5 separate regions of the Homo sapiens genome follow, and all the other regions are linked to region 2. The links come from fine-mapping of genetic effects on gene expression. A gene starts in region 2. Each other region holds a variant in brackets. All regions are shown on one strand. Distances are from middle to middle.

What was found. PIP is the estimated chance that this variant, and not a neighbour inherited with it, causes the effect.
Region 1: its variant is the best candidate, but not a certain one, in a credible set for the expression of WASF1 in skeletal muscle (GTEx, PIP 0.70).
Region 3: its variant is the best candidate, but not a certain one, in a credible set for the expression of WASF1 in whole blood (INTERVAL, PIP 0.84).
Region 4: its variant is the best candidate, but not a certain one, in a credible set for the expression of WASF1 in whole blood (TOPMed, PIP 0.73).
Region 5: its variant is the best candidate, but not a certain one, in a credible set for the expression of WASF1 in whole blood (INTERVAL, PIP 0.78).

Annotation. Positions count from the first base shown.
Region 1 is chr6:110,065,586-110,070,692 of GRCh38, reverse strand. No RefSeq gene overlaps it. Among named protein-coding and RNA genes, the nearest start is that of GPR6, 90 kb to the right of the region's middle. The variant C/G (reference allele first, on the strand shown) is at 2,027.
Region 2 is chr6:110,177,033-110,182,139 of GRCh38, reverse strand. It overlaps WASF1 (WASP family member 1), which reads left to right and starts at 2,470. Exons shown (of 11, transcript NM_003931.3): 1 at 2,470-2,701; 2 at 3,398-3,542. It overlaps CDC40 (cell division cycle 40), which reads right to left and starts at 1,713. Exons shown (of 15, transcript NM_015891.3): 1 at 1,507-1,713. The coding sequence starts at 1,695. RefSeq lists silencers at 2,441-2,550, 2,791-3,110.
Region 3 is chr6:110,377,303-110,382,409 of GRCh38, reverse strand. No RefSeq gene overlaps it. Among named protein-coding and RNA genes, the nearest start is that of METTL24, 22 kb to the right of the region's middle. The variant T/G (reference allele first, on the strand shown) is at 2,331.
Region 4 is chr6:110,252,307-110,257,413 of GRCh38, reverse strand. The region is part of intron 4 of METTL24 (methyltransferase like 24); the gene reads left to right. Among named protein-coding and RNA genes, the nearest start is that of CDC40, 74 kb to the right of the region's middle. RefSeq lists a silencer at 1,781-1,981. The variant C/A (reference allele first, on the strand shown) is at 2,030.
Region 5 is chr6:110,210,462-110,215,568 of GRCh38, reverse strand. It overlaps CDC40 (cell division cycle 40), which reads right to left. Exons shown (of 15, transcript NM_015891.3): 6 at 4,766-4,862; 7 at 3,297-3,436; 8 at 2,409-2,483; 9 at 238-283. Among named protein-coding and RNA genes, the nearest start is that of CDC40, 33 kb to the right of the region's middle. The variant T/C (reference allele first, on the strand shown) is at 2,799.

The DNA.
Region 1 (5,107 bases), 110 kb after region 2:
AGGTGGCATATTGTTAATGCTCAGTACATGGTAGTTAATATTTAAAATTCTGTAATGATATAGAGGGAATTTTATTTATTTATTTTTAGCAACTAGAAAGAGAAGTCCTCTGAGAAAAGCACCTGTATTAGGATGCCTTTGTGAATGAGCTTAGGACAGGTTCCTCCTAACTCACACAGTTTGGAAGGCACAGTTTATATTTGCTCTTGGGGAGGAGGATATAGGGAGAAGACTCTTCCAGGTCTAAAATCCTACTTCTAATTCTATTCAGACTCCTCTATTAGCTACATTTCTGAAATCTCTTTTATAGAAAAGGAATGGAATAGCCATGTTTAACCCCAAATGTTAATTCTCTGGCAGTATGATTTATTTTATCACCTGATTTGTTAAAGAAACCAGACCATTTAGCAACGAAATCAAAAGAAGTTTAAAAACTGCTGCACCATTATATGTCACAGCCAATGTGTTACACAAAAATACAGTTGTTTTCTTTATGTGTGTGTTTATTCATTCATTAACAGATATTTGCTGATCACCCACCATGTGCCAGGCACCATTCATGTGTCCTAGGGGGAAGCAGTGAACAACAACAAAAAGTCCCTGTTTTTATAAACCTCACATTCTACTGAGGGAGACAAATTACCTATGATAATATAGGCAGTGACTAGTGTGGCAAAGAAAAATAAAACAGGATAAAGGAATAGAATGGAATGTAGGAGTGGGGGTTGTTAAATAAAATAGGCAGAGTGGTTCTCTCTAAGGAGAAAACAGAAACTGGGATAAAGGGAATGAGTGATTCCAGGTATTCCAAGCAGAGATAACAGCAAGTGTGAGGCTCTGCAGTCATGTTTGAAGCAGCAGAGAAGGCCCGTACATCAGGAGCAGAGTGAGCCAAGAGGAGAGGGTAGGGAATTGAAGAGGAAGCACACCTGCTCATGCTCAGTGGCTGCGGCAAGAACTCTGGTTTTTATTCCTCCTGTGACACAAAAACAAGGGAAGTTTTTGAACAAGGTAGTGATGGGATCTGATTTGTATTTTTAAAAGAACCTGGCTGTGATATGGAGAATAGACTATAGAAAAGGGCAAGGGCAAAGGCAGGGAACTCAGGAGGCCACAGGAGCAATCCAGTGTTGGCTAGGGGCAGACAGGGGCTGAGGAGCAGAGTTGGAGGGCTCCGATTTGGGAAGTACTTTCATGGTGGAACCACCTGTCTACTAAGAGAAGACAGTTTGGGGCATGCTGTGTTTGTGACGCCTGTTAGACATCCATGCGGACATAATGAGAGGGAGGTCAGCTATAGCAGTCTTGAGTCCAAGAGCTGCAGATTTTTTTGGTTTTTTTTTTTTGAGACAGAGTTTCCCTCTTGTTGCCCAATATGGAGTACAGTGGTGCAATCTCAGTTCACTACAACCTCTGCTTCCTGGGTTCAATTGATTCTCCTGCCTCAGCCCCTGAAATATCTGGGATTTCAAGTGTGTGCCACCATACCCGGCTAATTTTGTATTTTTTCAGTAGAGACAGGGTTTCACCATGTTGGTCGGCTGGTCTCGAACTCCTGACCTCAAGTGATCCACCCACTTCGGCCTCTCAAAGTGCTGGGATTACAGGCATGAGCCACCGCACCCGTCCAGAGCTACAGATATTAATAGGAGTCATCAGTATGCAGAGGTAGTGAGAACCATGACATTAAAAGAGTCCATGCAGGAAATGGAAGAGGAAGACTTCAAAGACTTAGGTCATCTAGAGTTGGGCAATAGAAGGAAGATCCTACAAACAGAAGGGAGCAAAAGCCTTGGTGGGGTCGGAGGAAAACAAGAGAGTGAGTTCTCCTGAAGTCGCACGGAGGGAATGTTTGACGAGGAGGCAGTAATCAGCTGCACTGAGTGCTGCAGCAAGATGCATGAGCTGAGCCTCAGGCCGTGTCCAATACAGTACACCAATTCAGTGTGAGAGATGCCTACCTTCTGCCAACTTCAGAGACTGGATTGCCGAAGGTCACTGAGGTTCACCTGGCATAGCAACGTTC[C/G]TCTAATTGTATTTGCTCCAGGATTTTTAATATAAAGCATTCGATGAGAAGAACTGAGATTCTTCTATGGGATCAACTATGCAGTTTACTAAGTTAAACTTAAAAAAAAAATTGCTGCCAACTACAAAATCTAACTATATATGGTGGGTAACTAGTGTTAACTCCGGTCCTCCTTTCTGTGGACTTGGTGAAGCCTTTTCTAGGAGCCTGAAGGAAATACCCGTACCCTGTCTGGGTCCTATTAATAACTCATCCTGGTTCCTGATTGTGTGCTGATCTTTTCCTGTGCTCCATGCCAGTTTATATTAGAATGGTCACAACTGGGCTGATGTAGTCATTACACATAATTGTCATTCTGTTTCAAGAGTTCAAAAATCCTCTATGTTCAGCCTTCTTCAGTTGTACTACTCGTTCTTGTTCATAATTTGCTCCCCCATAGACCCATGTAGTGCAGAAACTTAAGAAGGTTTACTTTCCTTCATGTGCCCTTTGTGTGGCTGGCCTGCTGCCTCTCTTGAATAGCTTCTGTCTCCCTGTGGTGTGTCAGTGGGAGTGCTGACAAGGCTTACCTGATTTTTGGCAGGGAAAGAACAACTTCTAAAGCAAGTTGCTATAGTTACCAAGTCTTCCCACTGCATAGCAGTCGCTGACTCTATGCTACTTTTTAATGTTGCTCTATCAGATATTCTCCTTGGGTACCGCAGCTTGGGGTTTTGTTATTTAATCATTTCATGCCCACTTATGCGTGGGTTACATAGAGAGTGAGGAGAACAGGGTCCTATTATGGGGAGCATACACATACACCCACACATGCATACATGCATATTTCAGGTTTGACATGCCTGAAACCACAGCTGTTTTTCCACTCAGATTTCTTGCACCAAATCCATTTTAGAAGGTTTTCTACAAGGATAACAGATTGTATGTGGAATCATTTTGTACATTCCAAAGAATGTTTGTTTCTATGTTTCCAGACACAAATTATGTGTGTGGAAAGTTTCCCCAATTCTTTTCTCAGTAATTATCTATTTTCTATCTCTAGGAGAAAAAAATAAAATAGAAGTTGATTATAGATGAAATCATTCATTTGTGAGCATTTTTGAAAGTTAATGTTTCAAATCAGACCCATTGTTGTGCTTTTTCTATTGTTTGTGCATGACTGTAATTACTAGAAATTGTGACATTTGGAGGCTAATTGAACTGCTGTCTTGTCTGACAGGCACAAGTGTTCTGGGTAGAAATTCAGACACTAATATAGTGGGTGATGAACATTATGTGAACATCATAGAGCCTTTCTCCCCACTGAATTGAGCTGCTCTCGAGGAAACACACACACATCACTAACCAGAATTGTAGTTAGTTCAGCATCACAATGTAGGCATGGTGGCAGAGCTTGGCATGGTCCTGGGTCTCACTTCCCATCACTTCCTCAGCCCCATCCTCTCTTGGCCTGCCGGAGCTGCCTCACCTGGCCAGGCTCCAGAATGGCTGGGAGTGAACAGCCCCTGGCCCACTCTTAGAGCTGACTTTCTGGGTGGAGATTCGGCTTTGCTTTTCCCTCCGGTCTGTGTGACTTCGTGGCTCTGTGGGCTGCTGCTGGCAGCACTAGGTCTTTGGCACCTACACCTCAGGCTCTTGGGCAGATTGATTTGGGGATCACTGCCTCTGTATAAGGATGTTGGTCCTAACTAATGACTGACACCAAAGAAAGGAGGCCTTTGGCCTGTCACCGCCTCTGAGGTATGCAAGGATGGGGTCAGCTTGGGGACTGCATAGACTAAAACAAGACACAGTGATTTGGATAACAAATGTTGGACAAAATGGTAGCCATGTCTCTCCCACAGAGCTGGACTTCCAGGCCTGGTGGGTGGGCTTCTTTCAGCTGTTTCTTACCATGAAGTTAACAAACAGGTGTGTTGAACTCCAGACAAGTTTCTCCAAAGACAAACTTGAGTAAGAGCAGCCACCAGTCGGCGGAGAAGTAGGTGACTGCCCTGGCTAGGACCCTGGCAGTCCTGAAGACCCTGAGATTCCACTCAGCCTGCATCACCCCTGTACCCAGTCCTTCCACACCTGGAAGGCTGACCCTCCTTTCCCCCATGGACCTGCACTCTCCAGGCAGAATGGGCCCCTCTATCACTTCTCCCACCTAGGCTGCCTGCCATGTTTTCACCCACTCATGAGGCTGTTTGCAGCTAGTTCCAGGCCCCAGGGACAGCTCAGTGTGATCACAGGTTTCAAAGCTCTCTGGAAGAAGACAGAGGAGAGAATAAATTGGTCTCCCCAAACTCTCACTTCTTTCTCCTTGACCCAGGAAGACCATCAAGCTCTGTTGCTCCTCCCTCCCTGGCTGGCACCTGGAAACTCTCAGACAGCTGGCTGTGTCAATTGCAGGAGACACACCTCATTTATTTCTCTTCTCTCAGGGATCACTGTCCTGTGCTGCCTGAAAACCATGGTTGAATGTCTGAGAATCATCGTTGGATATACCTTGTCTGTTTTAGTAGCTGTTTAAAGAAGGCAGGCAAATCTGGTCCCTGTTAGTCTATCATGGGCATAAGCAAAGTCCTCTTCTTCATTAAACACTTCTTTCCCATTAACTTCAGAGACCTGACGTTCTCCTGCCTTGTCTCTAATTCTCTACAAGCTCCTCTTAGCCTCTTTGGCAGGCTCATTAACTACTGGAGTTCCTCCCATCCACCATCCCGTTCTTGTCTCCTCCCATTCTGTAATTGCTGCCTGTGTGAACTCACCATGCCGAGGGCTTTGGTAGCCACCTCTACCATAAATGAGGTTTCTAGTCCAGAGCTCCTGTCACTAGGACTTCAACTAGGATTTCTTGCACCAGGTCCATTTTAGAAGGCTTTCTACCATAACAGATTGTATGTGGAATCATTTTGTACATTCTAAAGAAATGTTTGTTTCTATGTTTCTAGACACAAATTATGTGTGTGGAAAGTTTCCCCAGTTTTTTTTCTCAGTAATTATCTATTTTGTATCTCTAGCAGAAAAAAATAAAATAGAATTTGATTATAGATGAAATGATTCCCAGACATCCAACTGCCTCTGACTCCACAACCT
Region 2 (5,107 bases):
AACTTATCCAAGGTCCCCAGGTGGGTAAGTGCTGGAGGCAGGATTTGAATTACAGTCTTAATTCCAGAGCCTGTGCTAACCATTTCACGGTGTTCACCTTGAGCTAGAAGCAGCACAGCCTGAGGTTGAAGGTATGGGAGAATATGTGGAATGCAAAGAGGACTAAGAGCAGAGTCCTGGGAAACACCAGTATTGAAAAGGGAGAGTAAAATAATTGGAACAGAATGCTGAGTAGAGCCCCATGGAAGCGAAACGGAGAGAAAGTTTCAAGAAAGAGGAACTAATGAACAGTGTCATTTGATGCAGACATTTAAGTCAGATGGCTGAACTTGACAACTGGAAGGCCTGGGACATCACTCACAGACAGTAGTTTCCCAAGAGGATAGGGCCAGACTGCATTGGGTTGAGGAGAAAATGAGACGAAGACAAAAAGAGAGCTCCAAAAAGCTGAGCTGTGAAAGGAGAAGACTCAGGAGGTTACTGGAGGGGCTTAAGTTTGGAAAGTTTTGTTTTGATAGGAAGTTAGGAGGATTCTAAGCATTCTTTCATGACAGATGTCCATTTTTAAAAAGTAAAATTCACATACAGCTTGTTAAAAACCTGTAAAACACTTCTTAAGTCATTAAACTAGACTTGGGGACATGATACAAAGGAATTTTTGGACACCGCCTCCCCTCTTCACATCTTGAGCTGATCACCTACCTCGGGCTCTACTGGGCCTACACTACCAATTGGTAGATGCTCTCATCAGGCTCCAGACACATCAGCTTTTCCTCAGTTCTTCAAACCCACTAGGCTCTTTGCGTTCTCAGGCTTGCCTGTCACCTCTGCCTGGAAACTCTTGCCTTATTAATCAGCTTCCTCCATTGAGATCATGCAGCTGTTTCTCAAATCCAAGGCCTTTTTCTCACTGTATTAACACACACAATCATAAAACATTTACTGCACTCTCACTAGTTGGCTCTGTGCTATATGCTTTATTTGTGTAATTTCACTCAATTTTCACACTCATCTTTTCATGTAGACAGATGTTTTGAAAATGATCTCCACTGTACAGGTGAGGAAAGAAAGGAGGCTGCATAACTTGTCCAAGTTCACACAAGTGGTGGTGCCAGGATTAGAACCTAGTTCTTCAAAAATAAGACAAATCGAGGCCACTGCTCACACAATACTCTAGTTTGGGAAGTCCTGATCTAATTTCACTTATGTTCCGAGATTACACCTGCACTTTCCAGGCTATGTCCCTAATCCACAAATTCAAATTTCATCCCCTCCTTCCACTTGCTTTCTGATGGCGGGAGGCAAGGGCAGAGAGCATCGGAGGGCTATTCCGAACTTCCAATTCTGCCTCTCCCGAGGATGCATGTGGGAAGGAGAAGAAATTCAAACGTTAGCAACTTATCTCTGAGCACTGAGAAAGAGGTAACCCGGTACCTAACAAGCGGCTGGCAGTTCTGGAGCTGAAGCCAACAATTCCCACACTGCATTAGTAGCAAAAGTGCTTACCTTAACTGCCACCTCCGGAGCCGAGTCCACTGCCACTGCTAGAGACGGCTTTGATGAAGGCGATTTAGTCAAGTGCATGAGGGAGTCGGCGGCTGGCAGCGGACACCGACTGCTCTCACTGTCCGAGTCCGATTCGGACCCTGAACCCGAACCATAGGAAGCGGCCAGAGCTGCAATCGCAGCCGACATGACGGCAACAAATCTTCTGCGGAGACCCTGCCAGGGCGGAAGAAGAAGAGGCTCCCAGGTCCTGACAGATTGCAATGGAACACATCATTAACTTTCTTTGCTAAGAAATAATGTCTTACATTTTGAAACAATAAGCTAATTATTATTAGAATAACTACTGTCGAGCTGAGAGCTTAAAAAAGTTTATCTAGGGAAAAAGGGAGAATTATAATAGTTTATAACATTTAGGACCTAGTTGACTAAAGAATATGAGTTCCAAAATACCTTGAGGCCTCGCGGTCCTGCACTCCCAGCGTGCAGCGCGGCAGGAAGCGCGAGAGGGCACAATGGGAAGTGTAGTTTGCAACGAGGGGGCGGAACGGGGGCGTGTCCCCCTTTGACCCCGCCCCCGAATGGATGTTCCATTCAATTGGCTATCATCTTCCCTCATTCCCTAGCCAAGCAGTGTTCTCTTCGTCCCCCTCCCCCAAACTGAGGATTGGGCAATACCACAGAACCTCAGGAAAGGGGGGAAGAGCGAGCTTCGGCCCCACTAATGGGGGAGTGGGCGGAGGCTGGATTTCCCACCTCGGCTGCACCTGGGCACTGGAGGCTGAAGAGGAAAGTGAGAATCTGAAGTTTTGAGACCTCTGACTGGCCAGGAATAGCTCCTGGGGCGGGGGGCAAGGATGGGACCATAGGCGGAAAGAGTCTCGCGGTCCCCCCTGCTTCTGGCGCGGGTCCCTGCGCCCGGTTGTGGAGCGTCTCGCGCGGGGAGGGGGCGGGGGGAACGGCAGCTCGCGGTGTTGTTCACTCGCGCGTCGAGCACACGGTGGGTCCGGCGGCGGGTTGGCGCCCCAGGCGGCGTTCCCTGTGGCCTGGCGCCTGGGCCGCTGCCCTGAGCGGGTTCCGCCCCAGAGCCCGACCCTCCTGGGGGCTCTAGGCGGAGTCCCGCGAGCCGAGGGGGACCGGCGACCGCTGCCGAAGCATGAAGAAGGGGTAAGGCGTGAGCCCCCAAGATTTCACGGTGAGCGCGAGTCCCTGAGGAATTGCTTTTTTCGGGGAGGGGGTGTTGGGAGAGGAACTCTTCCTTACTGGCCGGAGCAGACCGAGTGGTGTGTGGCCCGCAAAGGTGACGGGGATGGATGGGCGCGCCTTCCCCGCCCCGGCCCCCACCCCCATCCGCGGGTTTTCCGAGCGCCCACCGCCCACCCGCCAGCGGGGCTGGGTGCCGAGGGAGACGGCGGCGGGCGCGCCTGGGGCTTGGCTGCAGGGACCGCCCCGGGGCTGCTCTCGCTGGAGAGACTGTGGGTGTCACCTGAGGTGCCACCGCCCGGGCTTCCCTGCCCACCCGCGCCCGCGGTCCGCCCCGTGCCTCTTTCCGGGGGAGGCGGTAGCCCCGGGCGACAGAGAATCCCCTGCTCGCCCTACGTGCGCGAGGCTCGGTAAAGCGAGCTCGTGCGTTTGCGTGTTTGCTCCGCGAGTCGGTGTCTGAAAACATAACGGTAAAGCGAGTGCGGGCATCCTTTTCTTCGTTGGAAGGGGAGGCGAAGCGGTGCTGTCGCTTCTGGTGCCTGTTCATGGGGGCTGCCTTGGGCAGAGTTACGGAGCCGCTCACTCAGCGCTCATGTCGGCAGGACTCGCCCATTGTGCCACCCAGATAATTATTCAACTATGCAGCATCCATTGCACCTTTCCCATTTTTCTTTTCCCCTTGCTACAGCATGCCCCCTAGCTTCGGTACTCTGACACCTTCTCTTGCACTTGCGGATGATGAACTGGAATAACGATGAAAGAAAGCACATCCGATCTCAACATTCACGTCCTGCCCTATAACCGATTAATTAATTGATCCCCAGCTAGACTAGGTACTTAAATACGACTTACTCTAATCATTTCCTTTTCTATGTAATAAGATGTGCGGTGGATTCGACTTAAATTTTTTCTTTGGTGTTAGATTCACGATTAGCTAAGGTCTTTTTTCTGTTCACTAATTGATGTAATTGACTTATTGGTTATTCAATCCGTCTAATGTTCTTAAATTTAAATTTGCATGGTAGGTAACATTCATTTTTCTGATTGTTCATAGCATTATATCATAATTAGAAATGCAGTCTCAATTTGAACTCTCAGGAACAGTTTATCCTTTATGCTCTAAGTTTCTGTTAGGAAACATTTTTGTTTATATTGAATATTTGAATGAAGTATTTGATATAAAATTTCGGAAGTTTTGAATAAGAAAAGTTTTGTATTTGTTTTTCGGTAGCAGAATATGTCATTACTAATCGTTGCCTTCCATTGAATGGAAGGATTTAATATTTAAGATGAGGATTTTAACCATCATATCAGTCATTCCCTAATTTATCTGATTTTATTTTTTATTCACTTTTTTCTTTGCAATATCATGTATTTAATTACTTGTTTTAGAATCCAGTTTTTTTTTTTCTAACTTGAATCTACAAGTATGAGTAGGCTTCAGTTTTGCGTGATCTACCTGAAGGATGAAATTTTTTTTTTTTTGCAAATATAAGAAACCACTGTTGGTTACTTGATTTTTATGTTAAAAACTGTTTACATCTCATTATTTAAAAATAAATGATTCACTATAAAAAGTAAGTGTTGTATTTTTATAATTTTCCTTTTCCATCTTTCCTTGTTTAAGCTTGTTGCATTTACCCTTTTGATAAAAGAGAATCACATAAGCATTGCAGAGGCAGTTTTAAGGTATAGTAATTGTTTTATGGCACTTGGAAGTGGCGTACATATAATATAAGTTGATGGTGTAGGATTAGTTGCTTGGTTAGGAAATGACCTTGCAATTTACAAAATGGACACCTTTGTGCCTTGGTTTCCTTATATGTAAATGGAGATAATATTTAGTAGGTAGTGTGCATAAATTCAGGAAAGGTGTGTTTTTGTAGTCCTTTTAAAGAAAATTTAAATCTTTTAGCTGATGAATGATTAAAAAATTTCTGTGAAAAATACAATGAAAAAATGTCAGGATTTTCCATGGCATATTAGAATGGCTGATTAACATTGATTTTTGCTTTGGAGAGGTATGCCTCTGAACTGAAAAATGTTTCTCATCTATCAAGGGTTTTAAATAATTGCAGACATAAAGGTTATTACAGTTAATACCTACATATAGTTAAACATATAGATAAAATAGTTAATAGTAAACAAAAATTATGACTTGATAATAAGTAGAATATTGAATTAAGTTAGTGAAGAATAATATATTCGAAAAATATTAAGGCCCTTTTTGTTACAAATTTGCAGGTGTTACAATCCAAAATACATAGTTGTGATCATTTATAAGGTATGCTATAGAGTTACTTTATTACTCATGTTTGTAAATATTCATATATTCAGAGACAGTTTTAATATTGTATAAGACTATATTTAATTATACATTTTGCTTTATTTTAGGAAT
Region 3 (5,107 bases), 200 kb before region 2:
CTTTCAGTTGTTTGGAATAGTTTCAGGATGAATGGTATCAGCTCCTCTTTGTATTTCTAGTAAAATTCAGCTGTGAATCCATCTGATCCTGGGCTTTTTTGGGTTGGTAGGCTATTAATTACTGCCTCAATTTCAGAGCTTGTTATTGGTCTATTCAGGGATTTGACTTCTTCCTGGTTTAGTCTTGGTAGGGTGTATGCGTGCAGAAATTTATCTATTTCGTCTAGATTTTCTAGTTCATTTGCATAGAGGTGTTTATAGTATTCTCTGATTGTATTTCTGTGGGGTTAGTGGTGATATCCCCTTTATCATTTTTTATTGTGTCTATTTGATTCTTCTCTCTCTCTTCTTTATTAGTCTAGCTAGTGGCCTATTTTGTTAATTTTTTTTTTTGGTTGTGAATTTCTTTTATTTATTTATTTATTATTATACTTTAAGTTTTAGGGTACGTGTGCACAATGTGCAGGTTTGTTACATATGTATACATGTGCCATGTTGGTGTGCTGCACCCATTAACTCGTTATTTAGCATTAGGTATATCTCCTAATGCTATCCCTCCCCCCTCCCCCCACCCCACAACAGTCCCCGGAGTTTTTTCAAAAAACCAGCTCCTGGATTTGTTGACTTTTTTTTTTAGGGTTTTTTCATGTCGCTATCTCCTTCAGTTAATCTCTGATCTTAGTTATTTCTTGCCTTCTGCTAGGTTTTCATTTAGTTTGCTCTTGCCTCTCTAGCTCTCTTAATTGTGATGTTAGTGTATTGATTTCAGACCTTTCTAGCTTTCTGATGTGGGCATTTAGTGCTATAAATTTCCCTCTTAACACTGCTTTAGCTGTGTCCCAGAGATTCTGGTACGTTGTCTCTTTGTTCTGATTGGTTTCAGAGAACTTCTTGATTTTTTCCTTAATTTCATTATTCACCCAGGAGTCATTCAGGAGCAGGTTGTTCAATTTCCATGAAATTGTGTGGTTTTGAGTGAGTTTCTGAATCCTGAGTTCTAATTTGATTGCACCATGGTCTGAGAGACTGTTTGTTATTATTTCTGTTCTTTTGCATTTGCTGAGGAGTGTTTTACTTCCAATTATGTGGTCAATTTTAGAATAAGTGCCATGTGGCACTGAGAAGAATGTATATTCTGTTGATTTGTGGTAGAGAGTTCTGTAGACGTCTACTAGGTCCACTTGACCCAGAGCTGAGTTCAAGTCCTAAATATCCTTGTTAATTTTCTGTCTGGTTGATCTGTCTAATATTGACAGTAGGGTGTTAAAGTCTCCCACTATTATTGTGTGGGAGTCTAAGTCTCTTTGTAGGTTTCTAAGAACTTGTTTTATGAAACTGGGTGCTCCTGTAACGGGTGCATATATATTCGGAATAGTTAGCTCTTCTTGTTGAATTGTTCTCTTTACCATTTTGTAGTGCCCTTCTTCGTCTCTTTTGATCTTTGTTGGCTTAAAGTCTGTTTTGTTAGAAGCTAGGATTGCAACCCCTGCTTTTTTTTTTGCTTTCCATTTGCTTGGTAAATTTTCCTCTATCCCCTTATTTTGAGCATGTGTGTGTCTTTGCATGTAAGATAGGTGTCCTGAATATAGCACACTGATGGGTCTTGACTCCTTATTCAATTTGCCAGTCTGTGTCTTTTAATTGGGGCATTTAGCCCATTTACATTTAAGGTTAGTATTGTTATGTGTGAATTTGATCCTGTCATCATGATGCTATTTGGTTATTTTGCACACTAGTTGATGCAGTTTCTTTGTAGTGTCTTTGGTCTTTATATTTTGGTGTGGTTTTTGCAGTGGCTGGTAATGGTTTTTCCTTTCCATATTTAGTGCTTCTTTCAGGAGCTCTTGCAGGGCAGGCCTGGTGGTAACAAAATCCCTCAGCATTTGCTTGTCTGTAAAGAATTTTATTTCTCCTTCGCTTATGAAGCTTAGTTTGGCTGGATATGAAATTCTGAGATGAAAATTATTTTCCTTAAGAATGTTGAATATTGGCCCCCAATCTCTTCTGGCTCATAGAGTTTCTACTGAGAGGTCTGCTGTTAGTCTGATGGGCTTCCCTTTGTATGTGACCTGGCCTTTCTCTCTGGCTGCCCTTAACAGTTTTTCCTTCATTTTGACCCCGGAGAATCTCATGATTATGTTTCTCAGGATTGATCTTCTCATAGAGCATCTTAATGGTGTTCTCTGTATTTCCTGAATTTGCATGTTGGCCTCTCTTGTTAGGTTGGGGAAGTTCTCCTGGATAATATCCTGAAGTGTGTTTTCCAGCTTGTTTCCATTCTCCCTATCTCTTTCTGGTACTCCAATCAAGTGTAAGTTCAGTCTTTTTAC[T/G]AAGTCCCATATTTCTTGGAGGCTTTGTTCATTCCTTTTCATTCTTTTTTCTCTATCCTTGTCTACATGTCTTATTTCAGTAAGGTGGTCTTCAAACTTTGATATCTTTTCTTCTACTTGGTCAATTCAGCTGTTGATACTTGTGTATGCTAAACGAAGTTCTCGTGCTGCGGTTTTCAGCTCCATCAGGTCATTTATGTTCCTCTCTAAACTGGTTATTCTAGTTAGCAATTCCTCTAATCTTTTATCAAGGTTCTTAGCTTCTTTGCGTTGGGTTAGAACATGCTCCTTTAGCTCAGCGTAGTTTTTTATTACTCATCTTCTGAAGCCTGCTTCTGTCAATTCATCCATCTGATCCTCCATCTAGTTCTGCGCCCCTGATGGAGAGACATTGCAATCATTTGGAGGAGAAGGGGCACTCTGGCCTTTTGGGTTTTCAGCATTTTCTCACTGATTCTTTCTCATTATTCTGAGTTTGTCTAGTTTCAGTCTTTGAGGCTACTGACCCTTGGATGGGGTTTTTGTGGGGGCCTTTTGTTGTTGTTGTTGTTGTGGCTTTCTGCTGGCTTGTTTTTTTTTCAATAGTCAGGCCCCTCTTCTGTAGGGCTGCTGCAGGTTGCTGGGGGTTCACTTCAGGCCCTATTCATCTGATTCGCTCCCATGCCTGGAGACGTCACTCAAGGAGGCTGGAGAGTAGCAAAGATGGGTGCCTGCTCCTTCTTCTGGGACCTCTGACCTTGAGGGGCACCAACCTGATGCCAGTAGTATCACTCCTGTATAGGGTATCTGACAACCCCTGTTAGAGGGTCTCACCCAGTTGGGCAGCACAGGGAGCAGGACCCATTTAATGAAGCACTTTGTCCCTTGGTGGAGAAGGTGGGCTTCACTTCAGGGAAACCCACTCATCTGGGCTTCCCAGATTCCTCAGAACTACCAGGACTCCGGAAAGGCTAAGTCTGCTGGTCTGCAGAGACTGGGGCCACTTCTCCCTCTAGGGGCTCAGGCCCAGGGACATCCAAATTCTGTCCCTAAGCCTCTGGCTGGCATTATTGGAGATCCTGCAGGGTAGCCCCGCCCAATTAGGAAAGATGGGTTAGACCTGAAGAGGCACTCTGGCCGCAGACTGCCACAGGTGGTGTGTTGGGCTGTGGGGATAATTCTTGGGACCAAACCACTCAGCCTCCCTGGCTCCAGCAGGGGAAAAGTGCAGCCTGGAGGTATAGAGATGGGTGCCGCTATTCCCCTGCCCAGGAGCTTAGCGTGTTAGGCAGTTGTGAGTCCCAGTGCTGGCTGCTGCCCCGCCCCCAAAGAGCTCAAAGGGCTTAGACAGCAGGCAGCCGCAGCCCCTGCTGGTCACTCCTCCCTCAGGGAGTTTGGTAGGCTTAAGCAGATTCCAGCTGAGAGGCCTCAAAAATCTGCATGTTCCACGGTTAGGATGCTAGGCCCGGTAGCGTGGGTTCATCAGTGAGAACTTCCGATCCGTGAGTTGCACAGTTCTGTGGAAAAAGCACAGTTTCCCCTGCTGGGTAGAGTGCTCACTCACTGCTTCCCTCGGCTGGAGGAGGGAGGCGGTGAGTGAGGGGGCCCAAGGGTTCCCCTTCCCTGTGTGGCTCTCAGGTGGGCTGCCCCACCACACTGCTCTTCTTTCTCTCTGTGGGTCACGCCAGCCTTCTAGTCAATTTTGATGACAGAACCTGGATACCTTGGTTGCTGGTGAAGAATTCATACACTTATTATGGCTTATTTTGGATGGGAGCCTCTCAGCACTGCTGCTTCTAGTTAGCCATCTTGGCCCCCAAGATAATAGATTTTAAAAAGTCAGACCTGTGTCAACAAATTGCTTTGGCCAGAAAGCCTTCTGTTGAGGCTGTTGGCTTGTCTCCGCCTGGCCCTTCCCACACTGCCCCAGCGCACTGCTGTCTACCTGGCCCACCAATAGCCCTTCAGTATGTCGGATCTTCCCCAGGGCTTGCCTTTTCCTGGCACTCACTCAAATACGAGTTAACTTCCCTGAACAAAATCCTCTGGACCAGGGGTCTTCAATCCTGACTGTGCATTAGAATCACCTGGGCAGCTAAAACCAACCCAAAACCAACCAACTGAACAAACTAAAAAACATACCTGGGCCCACTGCCAGACCAAGAGAGTTAGAATCTTTATGATACAGACGGCAAGTATTAGTATTTTTAAAAAATCTGCTCCCACCCCCACCTTGGTGATTTTAATGTGCATCCAGGATCGAGAACCACAGATTTAGATTTCCAGTCCTGGTTATATATTAGAATCACCTGGGGGGTTAAACATATACAGGTGCTTAAGCTCTATTCCAGACCTCTCAGATCAAAATCTCACAGGGTGGGAACCAGGAATGTCTATGTTTGACAGCTTCTCTGGGAGCTTCCTGATGAACAGCTAGGGCTGAGAACCAGGCCTTAGGCCATGCCAAGAGCATACTCGTGGGCCTGGGCATGGGCATGCTAGAACCTCAGCCACCTGAGCCTCTGAGGAGGACAGAAAACCTGGACTAGGCCAAAAGATGGATGGCGTTGCAGCCCTCCAGTCCAGGTCCCAAAGACCCCTGACCTGGATGCCCACCTCAGTCCCTTGGCCAGTGATGTCCAAGCCTGGCAGTGCAAGGGATGCCCATCATCAACCATGCCCAGGACACTGAATCAGTCATGGCACCGTATTAGTCTGTTTTCACGCTGCTGATAAAGACATAACTCGAGACTGGGCAATTTACAAAAGAAAGAGGCTTAATGAACTCACAGCTCCAT
Region 4 (5,107 bases), 75 kb before region 2:
TTTAATTTTAATGAATTAATTAAAATTAAAATGGCCATATGTGGTAAGCTTCTACTGTACAGGAGAGCAGCTCAGTGGCTTTCCTAAACATTCCAGTTTAGGAACAGTTCACTTCCTTGTACACACCCACAACAAAATAAAAAACTGAATGCCATTTGGAGAATTAAATATTGATATTATCCATTTCCTTATTTCAGTGTTGATCTCATTTAACTAGAAAACATATTTGAGATGGGAGCCTTGTAGTTTAATGCTAATGAAATATTCCATAAGATAAAACCAATTTGTATCTATTTCCAAGTCCTGTCAGAATTTATGTTAAGTCATCTTCTCTCAGATTATTGCCCCTGCTTTAGATCATGGTGATAAGAGTTTTAGAAAAATCCAACAATGCAAATTTCTTGATGCAGTGCAGCCTGTACTTGAAGGGCAGTTGTGGTGCCCTGTATGCTGTCAGAGGGGGAGATGACCAGCAGAAATTCCTGGTGTTCCACAAGAAGGAAGTGACATGAATAGAGAAACGGGCACACAAAAAGGAAGTGACATGAATAGAGAAATGGGCAGAAAGGTTTTAGTGGCATTTTGAGGAATGACAAAGAATTACATTTGGCTAAGTGTCGTGTGCATAAAGAGTTGAAAATCAAGACCCGAACACAACATTTGTGCCCTGTGGGAGAATGGAATTGATAACTGCTGTTATTCCTAACTCCCAACCCTTGACCTCTCTTGTCTCCTCTCTTTCCATCAGTGAGGTCTGAAGCAAGGTGATCACAGAGGTGGAGGATGGAAGGCCAGGGGGAGGGTGTTATGGAGGCAGAATAGGTGGGACTCGTTATCTGATAGGATATCATACCTGCTGTGAGCCAGGACCTCTGATAGGAACTTGATACCCAACAAGGAGTTAGATTCCTGCCCTAAAGGAACTTACAGCCCAGGTAAGGAAATCAAAAGATCAACACAAGAGTGACCATGCTACCTACTTTGCTAGAACTCTGCATGGGGTTCAGAAATGGAGGACATCAAGTTGACTCTGACAGGTCTAGCATGAGTCGTGCTGGGGTTAACTGCAGCACTGGGACTCATATCTTATATGACCAGGGAGGGAAAGTTGAGACTTGGAGATTGTTTAATTAGAGGTGATACTAAAGTCTGAGGTGAAGCTAGGCTCAGTGGTAAAAATAATTTCCTGTATATATTTTTCAAAGCTGCATTCCTCAGTCATGTGTGTGTGTTGTGTGTGTGTGTATGCACATGTGTGTGCACACACATCCCGAGACTTCTTAATGTTTTCTCACCCCCTCTCATTTCTGGCTTCTAACACTTGACCCCACTCACTGCTGATTCTTTCATTATTTTTATTCCTAGTTTCTTCTCACTTATATTTTAGTATATGCTTAAAACACAAGCAAAAACTAAATACCAAATGCGTTTGTTTTGTGTCCCTCTAAATTAGTGCTTGCTTTTTGCATTGGGGCTGTTTTTTTTTCTTTCTTTTCTTGCCTAAGTCACATTACTGGCTCCAGCATGCTCTGAGGTTGACCCAGTCCCACCATCTAAGGGCAAAGATTCTCCCACTGAACCCCAAGAACATGTCTTCCTGAAGATTTTATTTGGATGTTTACTTGGGTTATTTGTTTATACATCTATTCATTTAGGAATCATTTATAGATGTCTGAGTTTTATGTCCCATCTCCTTCCAAAAATACTTTGGAACACTTGCAAATAAATTAACCAGGTAATGTAACTTTAAGGCATTGAGTTCTGATCTTAAGATCAGAGATTTGTTTTCAGCTGCCCAGGGAAGTAGGGTAGAAATGAAGACAGAAAAGCAGCTGCCGGGAGCTGTCCGTGGTTCTGCCATTGCCCTTCTGCCTGACTCTGCCCTCGGTCAGGTCCCTTGCTACCGCCTCAGTCCTGCCTACGTTTGTGCTGCTTGGTTCCTGCTTAGTTCTTTGCTGTTGCATAGGAATCACCCTGCTGACCTCTGACATCTTGGCTGGTCACCAGCTCACCCATCATCTGTCCCTGA[C/A]TTGGGTTTCTAGGCTGTGTATTCTATCACCTCACCCAGCTCAGGAGATTCTTGCTCAGCAGTCTCAGGTTGGATTATTTCATCAAGCTCCATATCTGGCCAGAAAAAAAGAGCCTTTGCTTGTAAATGTTTTCCTCATTTCCTTTTTAATTCATTTGTAGAGTGTTGTTCCCTGCAGGAGTCATTTTTGTGAGCTAATTACTACATAAAATTATTTTATTTTATTATTAGTTCAGAATTGGTCCTACATTAGCTTAGAGTGACCCTTCATATTTCTCATAATCTGTAGGGCAAACCTCATCTCTTTCTTCCCTAGTGATAGCAGAAGTCTTGTACCGTTACATTTCTGCCAGTTGACAGTGATAATTGAAACTGATTTAGGGTGTTTAAAGTCTAAGGCTCTCAAAAAGACTTTTACTATTCTTGTTCACATTCACAATAGATTAATTTATTCTATTTTTCTACAACAACAAGACCCTCTTTCTAATGCATTTAGCTTCTAGTTTTGCAGGTACACTTTAAGTAAACTTGATATATAAAAACCTAGATATATTTTATCATTAAATAACAACTTTTCACCAGTAGACTAAAAAGCAAGAAGTTGTATTGATGTAATTATTTTAAAATTGTGATTGAATATTGACCCAAACTGTAATGAATATGGAGAATGAATGTTGATTTGTTGGGGTGGTAGGGAATTGATGATAATTCAAATTTTTATTTATTTATTTTTATGTATTTATTTTATTTCTTTTGAGATAGTCTTGCTCCGCTACCCAGGCTGGAGTGCAGTGGCATGATCTCGGCTCACTGCAGCCTCTGCCTTCTGGGTTCAAGTGATTTTCCTGTCTCAGCCTCCCAAGTAGCTGGGATTGCAGGTGCATGCCACCATGCCCAGATAATTTTTGTATTTTTAGTAGAGACAGCATTTTGCCATGTTGCCCAGGCTGGTCTCGAACTCCTGGCCTCAAATGATCCACCTGCCTCAGCCTCCCAAAGTGCTGGGATTATAGGCGTGAACCACGCCTGGTTGATAATTCAATTTTAAAAAATATTCATAAATAACTAGATGATGTGGCCAAATAAATAACAATTCTTAAAATATGAACTCATTTACAACACTTCTTTTCAGAATTCTGTTTTACAAAATGACAGAACACACACACAAACTTAGTTGCCCAGTTTGTTGATAACATCAGTTTGTAACATCATCCATTTGGGAAAATATCTATATGGCCACCAGAAGGAGGACTGATTAAATAAATTAAATCATTACAAAAGCTGTTAAGAATAAATTATTGATAGAGGCTTTCATATTTTTTTTAAGCAGGAGAGCTCTTTTCCCAAATGCAAATTTGTGAGGGATTCCAAATATGTCAAGGAGATCAAAGGGGAGCTGCTCTTGAGTTGAGGTCTGGACCTTCACCCACTTGCCATCCTCCTCACCCCTCCTGGGGACCTGCAGTCACCTCCTTCAGATTCTGAAAGCTCTGAGGGACTCTGTTTGAGAGAAAATTTTAGAGGAAAATTTATTGACATGGAAATATATTCATAGTCTGTTATGTTAAAAAGCAGATTTGAAAACATAGGATAATTTCAATTTTGTAGAAAATGTGTGTTTCAGTTATGCTCGTGTGTTAGAATTTGTCTTGTGTGTTTGTGTGTGCATGTGTACGTGTGTGTTTACAGCAAAGAAAAATGTTTGGGAGTTCAGAAGTAAACTGTTTTAAAATTCTGGATTATAGGTATTTTACTTCTTTTTTTGTTTATCTATGATTTTAATTTTTAAATAATGACCATGTATTGCTTTTATAAGAAAATATTTTTTGGTTAAATGCATATTAATTTCTAGAACTCACAGCTTTAGAATATATAGTACTTGACACAATACAAGTAACTTTTACCTTTTTAAAAAAAGATTTTCATGAATAGCACTTAGTCTCTGTTCTAGTTATCTATTGCTGCATAATGAATTAGCCCCCAAGCTTAGCTTTTTAACCCAACAATTGATCCTTTGATGCTCTCTCGTAGTTTATGTGGGGCAGAGTTTTGGGAAGGGCTTTGCTGGGTGCTTCTGGCTCAGGGTCTCTCATGCAGTTGAAGCCAGTTGAAGGCTTGCAGCAGCTGGGGTTGGCCAGACATCTCTCTCTCTCTATTCCTATTGACTCAGGACCTCTTTATTGGTCTCTCTGCAAAGGCTAGTTTGGATTTTCTCATAGCAGTACCGCCTCGGGGCAGTCAGACACCTTTCCTGAGGGCCAAAGTTTTCAGGAATGAATATACTCTTGAGCAAAGTAGAAGCTGCATCACCCTTTACGGCCTACGCTTGAACGCCACTTAGAATCACTTCTACCAGACTGTGTTAGTCAATCAGTCATTCACAGCTCATCACAATTCTGGAGGATGGGCTACATAATTTGTGGGGCCTAGTGCAAAATAAAAATGAGGGGTCTCTTGTTCAAAACTAGTGAAGAATTTTAAGACAGTGACAGCAGAGTGTTAAATCAAGCATGAAGCCTTTCTAGGCTTGGGGCCCTGTGTGACCACATAGGTTGATCCCATGTCTCAGTGGTGGGGGTGTCAAGGCCACATGCAGAAAATCATGTTAGATGGGAGATAATGGTGTTACATCTTTGGAAAATAATACCTACTACAGTCTCTGTGACTCACCTCCAATTAATTTGATGGCTCACACTTTTACTAGCTAAAACCAGAGTTAGCCATTAACTATAGAGGAGACACTACAGGCTGCCATAATAGTAAAAGGATGTATTGTAAAAATGCTTATGGAGATAGTGGTTGCCTCTAAATAGAGCATAGCAAAAATACCTGTTTTAGATTTGTTATGGGTTGAAGAAATTCATAGATTGAAGCCCTAACTCCCAGTGTGACTGTATTTAGAGATAGGGCCTTTAAGGAGGTGATTAAGGTTAAATGAGGTCATAAGGGTGGGACCCTAATCCAACAAGACTAGTGTCCTTGTAAGAAAAAGTGGAGACACCAGGAATGCATGCAGAAAGGCCACAGGGACAAGGCAGCCATCTGCAAGCCAAGTCGGGAGGACTTAGGAGAAACCAA
Region 5 (5,107 bases), 33 kb before region 2:
ATGTACGTGGATCCCCTCAGCAGCACGCTGTCTCACACCATTTTTGTTTTGCATCCGCTGCTCTTGCTTCCTAGTTCTCTTTCTTTGTCTAACTGGGGACACTGACTCCTCCTTCCAGATTCAGCTGAAATCTATGAAGAGTTTACTTCCTATCGGTGTAGTAAAGTTATTGTCAATGATGTTATCTTACTTTAAAAATTCTTCCCAGATTTATGTTGGAGAGAAAAGAAGCATTACCAATAAATGTTCTCAGACAGCGCCGTTCTCCATAAACCTCCCATAGCTGGGGGAGAAAAAAAACAACACATGGAAATATTACATTTAATAAAGGTCCTTCAATTAATAACAACAGCCCTATGCTGGTTATGTGTGTGCACATCTGTGTGTGTAAACGCACAGCTTCAATCATTAAATATTAAACACTGAATATCATTAAATATAGCTTGGTGCTGCCAGTTTGTGTTATATTATTTGGAACACACACACACAGAGTCACACACGCTCAAAACTAAAGAGTTTTAAAGATATTTACATCAAAAAAGAGACTTAACTATAGATGGAGTTAATTCAGGTAAGTTTTCATTTTCATATTGTTCTTTTCTATTTCATACATTTTCTAGGATGAAAAGTTTCTACTTTTGTAGCACTACAAATGACGTTTAAAGGAATTGTTATTAAAACTGCCATGTATATAACATTTTGATACTGAAAGCCTTTTCTGTTTACTTTTCTGAATAACAAGTATTACAGAAGCTGTAAGAAAATGATGATCTAGACTAAAATAAAAGGCTCATAATTCTCAGCATATCTAAGGTGGATTAATACAATAGCTTCAAGGCTAGCTTTATTCTTGACTGCCTTGAATCCAATTCTCAACAATGTTGCTAGTACTCTAAAATAGAAAGCATTTCCTTGCCACTGGTGCCAATAGGACACAGTCTCAGTTACTGTAGCATACTAGGAAACGACCTCTGAGACCTGGTTTCTTGCTCATGACTGCAATCATTCCTTGTCTCTTAGATGTTATGCTCCAGCAAGCACAAAACTGTTATTTTCAGCACACACCATGCTGATCCATTCTCTTTTCAAGCATACTCTACTCCTGTTTCCTCATCCTTTACTTAGTTAACCAACTTACTAAGGTATGCTTCCTCTTTGAAACCAGCATATCTTGTGCTTGCCTCTATAATAATCATTTATATCATAATAAAATGATCATCCTAAGGGGAGGGACAGTGCCTTTATAAGCTTTTACTTTCAGTCCCCTGCACATAATAGAATGTTTATAGAAGTGAACTAATTGAATTCTATGCTTTTTTGGTTGGTCAAAGAAAAGACCAACATCTCAATTAACATGGTTTGTACAAAGTAAAAGTAAAAGTTAAGTAAAATGGGGGTTTTTACTCCAAAATGTTGGCCTGTCATTTTAAGCTATTAGAGACAAATGCCTAAATGGTTGCTCTTATAAAAAAAAGTGGCCTTTTTTATTGTTAATATCCATGAATTATTTACAAATGATAAAATTTTAATGACTCAACTTTTCAAGCCCCAAGAGCACTATAGGGTTGGTATTTATTGAACCATCATCATGGTCCGGACAAAGAGAAGACACAAAACTGGTAAGAACTATCCTTTCAGATTCAAAATTTTTTTCAAGACATCCTGCATATTCAGGTTGAGATGCATTGGCAACGGAGTTTTTTCTACCACACATTCTATGACTGAACAGAAGCTAAAGATGGAGCTTCCCAAGACTAGAAAAGGTGAAAAGAAGGGGCTGGGAGCAGTCCAGTTACTTGGTGTCTACTAGTATTTAGAAGAAAAAGGATGAATTACATTTTCTACTTTCTAAAAATGGGATTTCTAACCTATGTCCTCTCTATTTCATAAGGTTTGGAGAAACAAATAAACTATTACATATACAAAATCTCTATAATGATTAGTGATTAAATATTTATATGTCCAAAGCCAAAATGATTGGATTACATTCTCATCAGTTGTCTAAGCTTAAAAAGGGGCCTAGCCACCATGGGTGCCTGTAGTCCTAGCTACTGGGGAGGCCGAGGCAGGAGAATGGCATGAACCCGGGAGGCGAAGCTTGCAGTGAGCTGAGGTCGTGCCACTGCACTCCAGCCTGGGCAACACAGCAAGACTCCATCTCAAAAAAAAAAAACAAAAAAACAAAAAACAAAAACAACAACAAAAAAAGGGGCCTAGCCAATTGGACCACAGAGCCATAGTTGATTTTATGTTTGGAAGTAGTTCATAAATTGCTGCATTTACAGGATCTAAGAGAAAATAATTAGCTTCTAATTGCCTAACAAACCCAAATTTATTTATAATTAATCAAACAGATTTAAACAAAGAACTAGCTTTGCAGCACTCCTACTCTGTTACTGAAAACTCACCTTAATTTTACAGTCCATGGAACAAGACAGCAATAAATGGCCAGAGAGAGGAAACAATCTGACTGCACTGACGCCCTATAAAAAGGTATTACAGTTATCAACCAGAAGCATTCAAAAGATCAGCTCAAATGAAGCATCAAGAAAAGACAGTATATATTAAGCAGCCTAATTTGCTATTTTTCTTCATTCCAAAAATCTCACCCCAGAATAACTTTCATTAGCATTCCAAGAGCAGGCCTTATTGACACTAAGCTTTTGAAGATTTTTTTTTTAACCTTTAATATTGAGTTCCTCACCCAATGGAATCCTGAGTCAATCAAATTGCTAATACCCCCACTTCTCTTCCTTTTTTTACTTAGTCCTTTGCTCTTTGCAAAGAGTTGGAAATTA[T/C]AAGTTGGAATAGTACAGATGACAAAGAATATCAACATCAAAATTTTTCATGACCCTTATCTCTGCATTAGTTTAAAAATTACCATAGTTTATAAACCAGGGCGCATCTAATCTCTGAAGTGTGATAACCACAGAGCTAAAGCAAAATTACTGAAGCTAAGCAGGAGACTTGGTGCTAGTACCAGCCCATTACTCACTGATTTGGTGCCCAAAAGGAAGAAGACTGTAGCAGGAGCTTGTGGGGAAAGGCCTGGCTACAAGGATACAGGACACTAAATCATGAATGCTATGTCATGGCCAATTCAGATGGCCTTGAAGACTGATTAGTCACTTGTGATGGATGTGTGGGCATCTCCAAAGCATAACTCAGGCTTACATTCAATTTGACTTCCCTGTACCTTTACCAGAAATACTAAATGTTCCACATCAACAGCTAAAACTTTACGTTGGCTTCATTATTATAACATTACAGCAAACAGAAACAACCAACTTGCTTACCTTTGTGTGTCCAGACCACACATGAATTTGTTTTTTGGGAAGATAACACTTCTCAGGTGGCATAGTTGACCGTAGATTAACACCAACATCCTGAGGTATGTGAAGATAGGACCTGCCTTGATAGTCATACATTTCTTTAACTGAAACAAAAAGGCAAAGAAAATCAATAAACAAATACAACCCATAGTCATGAAACCTAACATTCTTAAAATAACATTTTATTCACAGGTATATCATTCCATATTAAGGTTTAGGTAATAACACTCCAATGATGTCAAGATCATGAGTCAGCTAAGATTTAAGTGCTTAAAATAACTGCTATCATTTACAACTAGAGGTAGTATTTCGAAATTCCTAAATATCCAGAGATTATAGACCTTTAGATAATATCTATACTTCTTTTCATCACTTACACATCTTAGTGATCTATAAAGACTTCACTGTGGCATAATTATAGCAAGGGAAGATAATACTTGGGCCTTGTTAGTCACTGGTAAAGAAGCAGAAATAAAACAGGTTAAGAAGGAAGTTAAAACAAAACAAAATATATCAACTATCCTTTTCCCCTGCTTTCCTCTCTTATGCCCTTCCAGTTCCTTTTCATTTATCTTTTCCCACTTTCATCACAAATTTTACAATAAAGTCACCTGTGAGAATTAAATGACATAGTATATATACAGCAATTAGCAGCATGCCTGGCACAGAGTAAGTACTCAATAAATGTTATTTTTATATTATTGTTATTATAGTTTTAAGTACCATAGTACTAAATAGACTCCTTGGAGATAAAACTGAAGCTTGAAGAACCAAATATGGCTTCATCAAACCTAAATATCTGATGTAATATAACATTAGAATAAGCAACACTGTAAATGCTAAGCTATTCTTTACAGTTTTAGATAATCACTATGTATTTTCCTAAATATAACTAATTATTAACAGGTACATTCTAGAATACTTACGATTTGTTTTGGTGAATATGCATTTCCTTCTACAAGTCAAAATAAGTATGAGAGCCTTAAGCTCCATCTTTTCACACGAAAATCCAAGTTTATTCTGAATATAGCTGAATAACGATTATGAACTGTGAGGATACCTGAGTATTTGGCTTCATTAAAAACATTTAAAATGACTGGGGCACTATTAATACACCAAAAGAGTCAACTTTATCTTACGAAAGAATAGATTGTGGACTATTCAAGTTTCTTTTTATCTACCATTTAATAAAATTCATTCACACTTGGAAAAAAATTATCTGTGGCTATCATTAATCATGCTATTTTTTCTCCTTTATCAGTATACAGAAGTCTGCTGTAATTTCCTTGGGATACAAATTGTCCAACACAATTATACTTAACATAATGATTTTATTACAGCTGATAGTAAGGGTAATTGATATTGTATGAACAGCGAACAGAGTAAATATGAAGGTTTTTCATAAAAATGAAGATGTACAAAAAATATGTTACCATGTAAGATTGTCTTCTCCTCCCCAGGTTTCTCTTCTTCCTGTTTTCCTTTTTTCTGCCTCTTTGCTGTGATTTCATCCAATTCTTTTTGCTCTTCCTAAGAAAATTAAGGAGTGAAATTTAAAATGAATGTTCTAGAACCTCATTATACCTAAAGTTGGTTATAAATTCTTTATAATGACTTCTACATATCTGGTCCGAGTATGTTCCCAGGATAACAAGCTCAACACTTTTTTTTTTTTTTTTTTTTTCTGAGATGAGTCTCGCACTGTCGCCCAGGCTGGAGTGCAGTGGCGCGAATCTCTGCTCACTGCAACCTCCCTCTTCCTAGTTCAAGCAATT